Regions from separate parts of the Homo sapiens genome. Here region 1 is linked to region 2. The links come from fine-mapping of genetic effects on gene expression. A gene starts in region 2. The other region holds a variant in brackets. All regions are shown on one strand. Distances are between the middles of the regions.

Region 1 (2,917 bases), 27 kb after region 2:
GCACTTTGAAGGGCCAAGGCAGGGATATTGCTTGAGCTCAGGAATTCAAGACCAGTCTGGGCAACATGGTGAAACCCCATCTGTACAAAAAATATAAAAATTAGCTGGGTGTGGTGGTATGCATCTGCAGTCTCAGCTACTCAGAAGGCTGAGGTGGGAGAAGCACTTAAGCCTGGAAGGTCAAGGCTGCAGTGAGTTGTGATCATGTCACTGCATTTCAGCCTGGACGACAAAGTCAGACTTTGTCTAAAAAAAAAAAATATTTAATTAACAAAAATTCAGTCAGGAGGTCAGATGTGGTGGCTCATGCCTATAAATCCAGCACTTTGGGAGGCCAACGCAGGAGGCTTCCTTGAGCCCAGGAGTTCAAGAACAGCCTGGGCAACATAGTGAGACCTTGTCTCTAAAAAAAAAAAAAGCCCAGCATGGTGGCTCAGGCCTGTAGTCCCAGCTACTTGGGAAGCTGAGGCAGGAAGGTGGCTTGAGCCCAGGAGGTTGAAGCTGCCATGAGCTGTAATCATGTAATATTGTTTGGCTGTGTCCCCACCCAAATCTCATCTTGAATTGTAGCTCCCATAATTCCCATGTGTTGTGGGAGGGACCTGGTGGGAGATAATTGAATCATGGGGGAAGTTTCCCCCATACGGTTCTTTGGTAGTGAATAAGTCTCACAAGATTTGATGGTTTTATAAGGGGAGACCCTTTTCACTTGGTTCTCATTTCTCTCTTGTCTGCCACCATGTAAGATGTGCCTTTCACCCTCTGCCATGACTGTGAGGCCTCCCCAAACACGTGGAATTGTGAGTCCATTAAACCTCTTTTTGTTTATAAATTACCCAGCCTCAGGTATGTCTTTATCCGTAGCATAAAAACGGACTAATACATCATGCCACTGCAAACAACAACAACAACACAAAAACCAACCAACCAACCAAAATTCATCCAGGGTAACTGTCTCCAGGACTCCTTCTGTGTCCAGAATAGGTATTTCCCTTCAGGGTCCCCATAGCAGACATTTTGAATGGACATCTTAGGATCTTAAAAAGGTATCTCGGAATTATCTTTTTACTTGCCTGCTCTTCCACTCAATTCTTAATTCCTTAAGAAAACATGTCTTATTTTTGTAGCTAGCACATAGAAGGCACTCAAATAATCATTGAATGAACAGCAATTATAAATCTTCAGAACAACAATCGGACCCAGTGCAATCTTCAAAATAAAAATGTGAAGTAAAAAGTAGCATAGAATTTTTCGAAGCATAAAAATATGTATCATTCCAAAAGCATTAGGCAAAGATAACCATCTCATTTTCTAAGTATTACATCTTACTGAAATAACATATATATATTATACACACATTCCCCAGAATTCTTCTTTAAAAAATGATTGCTTTAAAAAGGTTAAAGCACTTAGCACAGTGCCTACCACACAGTAAGTGCTTGATATGGCTTGGCTCTGTGTCCCCACCTAAGTCTCATGCCAAATTGTAATCCTCAATGTTGGCAGAGGGGCCTGGTGGGAGGTGACTGGATCATGGGAGTGGACTTCATAGCTTTTCTCATGATAGTGAGTCGAGTTCTCATGAGACCTGGTTGTTTAAAAGTGTGTAGCACTTCCCCCTTCG[G/C]TCTCTCTTCTTCCTGCTCCAGCCATGTAAGATGTGCCTGCTTCCCCTTTGCCTTCCCACCATGATTGTAAGTTTCCTGAGGCCCCCCCAGCCATGCTTCCTGTGGAACTGTGAAATGATTAAACCTCTTTTTTTATAAATTACCCAGTCTCAGCCAGTTCTTTATAGCAATGTGAGAATGGACTAATACAGTGCTCAATAAATGTTAGCTAACATTAAAAGACAAAACAAATACTAATTAGAATTGTCTCAGTAAACTTCTGGTATAATTCAGATATAGGGAATGAAGTAGAATTGTGGATGAGTTAGCTATAAAGCTAAAAAAAAAAACCTCTCAAATATACTGTACTAGAATAGTCCTATACTAATATCGTAGCAGTGAATAGCCACAGCAAAGGGTGTGATCTAGGAAAGAATAACAATAAAGAACCAGTCTAACTTAGGCACTTATGGTGACAATAAACAAAAAAAGTGGCCCTGCACATTTTTGAAACAAATATCATTATATAATAGTCGAAGTTGTGATTTATTTAAAACCAAGTCCATAATTGCTTGGGAAATATACTAGTAATTAACTAAAATGATTAAAATTGACACATGGCTTCCAGGCATTCAGTTATTTTACACTATCTAATTCAGCCTTGATAATGTTAGATATTTTTGCCTACTAGTAACAGAAAACCCACGTCAAAACAGATTATTAACAAAAACAAGACATAATCAGACAGCCTGAAGTAGGGAAACTCTAGAGTTGGCTAATTCAGCAGTTCATTGACCCATTAAGGACCTGAGATTATTGTCTTTGTGCTCAGCATATCATGGATGCCCGCTTCACGTTTTCAAAATGGCTACAGTAATCCAGGCATCACATTCTCGTGCTCCAACATCCAGAGCAAGGAAAAAAAAAATCTCTCTCTCTCTCTCTCTGAATCTTTCTGAAATCTTTTCTTAGTTTAGAAACTTTTTCTAGAAGCATCTCCAACAGACTTCCCTCCTGTCTCATTTGCCATAATTGAGTCATAGCCCTTTCAAGAATAATCTTGAAAATCAAGAAGAGAATTTCCCTGCTTGATTTGGACTAATCAAGATAGACCTCCTATGGCTGGAGCTTGAGTTCACTTCTCTGAAGCACATGGCTAGGAAGAACATGGTGTATACCTAAACCAATCTGGGATACTGTTGGCAAGGCTGAAGGTGGTAAATAGCTGTTGGTTAGGCAACCAACAGTGTCTGCTACACAGCCACAAAAATTGGCTGTAAACTTCTGGCTAGATCACAGTATTTCAGACTATT
Region 2 (2,917 bases):
ATCTCAGCTCACTGCAACCTCCACCTCCCAAGTTCAAGCGATTCTCCTGCCTCAGCCTCCCAAGTACCTGGGACTACAGGCACGTGCCAGCACGGCCAGCTAATTTTTATATTTTTAGTAGAGGCGGGGTTTTGCCACTTTGGCCAGGCTGGTCTCAAACTCCTGACCTCAGGTGATCTGCTCACCTCGGCCTCCCAAACTGCTGGGATTACAGGCATGAGCCACCACGCCTGGCCCAGTTAGTTACTATTAATATCCCTAGTTTACAGTTGAGGAAACGGAAGCATGTAAAGATTAAGTAAGCTTGCTTAAAATAACAACTGTTGGCCGGGCGTGGTGGCTCATGCCTGTAATCCCAGCACTTTAGGAGGCCAAGGCAGGCGGATCACAAGGTCAGGAGATCGACACCATCCTGGCTAACACGGTGAAACCCCATCTCTACTAAAAATACAAAAAATTAGCTGGGCGTGGTGGCGGGCGCCTGTACTCCCAGCTACTTGGGAGGCTGAGGCAGGAGAATGGCGTGAACCCAGTAGGCGGAGCTTGCAGTGAGCCGAGATTGCACCACACCACTGCACTCCAGCCTGGGCGACAGGGCGAGACTCTGTCTCAAAAAATAAAAATAAATAAAAATAAAAAAATAACAACTGTTAAGTGGTGGGCTGGGATTTGAATCCAGGCAGTCTGGCTTCTAAGTGCACGTTCTTAGCCATTAGACTATATGGCTCTCATTATTTTGCACTGTCAAAAATAAATGATCCTCTTTTACACACCCAAGAGTACATTATTTGTACTTTCATTTAGCATTTAGGGTTTATATATCTGTCTTTCCAACTAAACTTGGGGTTCCTTTGGGGCTTTATAGTCTCTTCTAAACATATCATAGTAGCTTGCACGTGTGCCTTATGTTTGGGTACAGTAACTATGTTATGGACATCTTAAACATTTTCCTTGTGAGGGCGCTCCTTTCCTCACCTTTGGAAAAATTTGGCAAGCAGTTCCCTGTTCTTAGCTACGCCAGCTTTGCGTCCACAATGCGGGAAGATGAAATAAATTTGATCAAATTCTCTCTCGTGCAGTTCAAAGACATCTGCCAGCTGGGTGCAGTCCACACCGAAACGTACATCGATACCTGGCAAAGATAGTTTGGGGGCGCAAAATATAGACAGGAGGATGCCTCAAGACATGGAACAGAAAAACTCTTCCTAACTTAAACCGTGCAGACCAGCCCAAGTCTGGGCACAAAGCCGGCTTTATGTGAATATCCGTGGGACGATCAAGAACAATCTCCACGTGGGTTACATCCCCACGCCCCCACCCTTTCCACTTTGGGACGCGCCGGCCGCTGGGCGGGGTTTCGCAGAGGGGCGGGCTCGCTACCTCGCTCGCGCAGGCACTGCAGATTCTCCCAGGCCAGTGGATCCCGAGCCAACTCGGCCGGGCGCTGGAGGCAGGTGGCGGTAAGTTGAGTGCTCTGATCCAGGGTTTCGCTCAGAGCGGCGGCGAAGGAGAAATTCCCCTCCCCAACCAACAGGAGGCGCCGAGGGGCCATGGCCTCCACGGACTCCCGGCTCGCGTTCTCTGTGGCGCTCGTTTTACGTCACTTCCTTCACGGATCTCTCTCCGCCCCGTCTTCTCCCGTCACTAGTTGATGACGCACCCATGGCGCCTGGTTGTCTAGACGAGCCGGTGTACCGACTCCCCGGTGGATGATAACTATGAGTGCAAAAGCAAGACGCGCACTTTCCTGTCACCTCGCCCTTTCACCCCCTCGGGAAGATCAAAGTGTCTTTAGCCCAAGCATGGCCTTGAGCGACTTCATCACACCTGCATGAGGTCACAAGCAGTCACTAGCGCAGGGGGGTGAGGCGAGTTCTGGGTGAAAGAAACGGGGCGGGGCTGAGGCCAAGGAAGAGGTTGGACTGTGTCTCGCATGCTCCTGACGCAGAAGGTTTTGAACCTTTTTTCACCTCGTCTGAAATGGCTGCCTCCCAGTGTCTCTGCTGCTCAAAATTTCTCTTCCAGGTGCTTAAATCTCCTATCTTCTATTCGTTCAAGAAAGAGTATTGAGTGTCTATTGCGTGCCAGGCCACTGTGAGGGTGGTTACGATATGTGGATGAACAAAATGTGGCCTATGATTTCAATGAGCCTGCAGTCTGGTGGGGAATGCACAGAGCAAAACAGGCAACTCTGATATGGCAGGGTGTGTGCTCTGGGAGCACACAGAAGAACGTTACCAAGTTTGGGGGCGAAGAGGGTCAGAGAGTCCTTGGATGAAGTAAACCCGAGTTGAAAGCTAACAGGGTAAAAGTGCATCTTAACTGAGTCAAGAGGCGTGAAGAGGCAGAAGGAACAATATATGCAAAAGCTTGATGGAGAAACAGAATAGTTGAGTTTGGCTGAAACACAATTGGAGGGAGAGTAACAGATGAGACTGAAGAGTTAGGCAGGGGCCAGGTCATAGGGAGCGTTGTAAGCCTTTAAAAAAAATCAACTTTTATTTTACAAATGGGGGTACAGGTACAGGTTTGTTACGTGGATATATTGCACCCAGGTAGGTTGCAGGTTTGCTACATGGGTATATTGCACCTAATAGTTTTTCAACCCACACCACCCGCCCTCCCCACTCTAGTTAGTAGCCTGGAGTGTGTGTTGTTTCCATGTTTAGGTCCATGTTTGCTCAATGTTTAGCTCCCACTTATAAGTGAGAATGTCAGAGGTATTTATACCAGAGCAACTCCGTCTTGAATAGGGGCTAGGTAAATAAGGCTAAGACCTGGGCTGCATTCCCAGTAAGTTAAGGCATTCTTAGTCACAGGATGAGATAGCTCAGCACAAGATACAGGTCATAAAGACCTTGCTGATAAAACGGGTTGCAGTAAAGAAGCCAGCTAAAATCCACCAAAACCGAGATGG

Which allele goes with the higher level. Positions count from the first base shown, and alleles are read on the strand shown. Sizes are in standard deviations (SD) of each study's normalised expression.
In carriers of allele G in region 1, the expression in fibroblasts of the gene that starts at base 1,585 in region 2 tends to be higher than with C alone (small effect, 0.19 SD a copy in GTEx).

Evidence for each region. PIP is the estimated chance that this variant, and not a neighbour inherited with it, causes the effect.
Region 1: its variant is fine-mapped to the expression of FDXACB1 in fibroblasts (GTEx, PIP 0.95).

What each region holds. Positions count from the first base shown.
Region 1 is chr11:111,904,089-111,907,005 of GRCh38, forward strand. No RefSeq gene overlaps it. Among named protein-coding and RNA genes, the nearest start is that of CRYAB, 6.2 kb to the right of the region's middle. The variant G/C (reference allele first, on the strand shown) is at 1,625.
Region 2 is chr11:111,877,581-111,880,497 of GRCh38, forward strand. FDXACB1 (ferredoxin-fold anticodon binding domain containing 1) reads right to left here and starts at 1,585. Exons shown (of 5, transcript NM_138378.3): 1 at 1,381-1,585; 2 at 976-1,132. The coding sequence starts at 1,552. It overlaps CFAP68 (cilia and flagella associated protein 68), which reads left to right and starts at 1,961. Exons shown (of 4, transcript NM_022761.3): 1 at 1,961-2,025. The coding sequence starts at 1,981. RefSeq lists enhancers at 1,253-1,872, 1,369-1,838.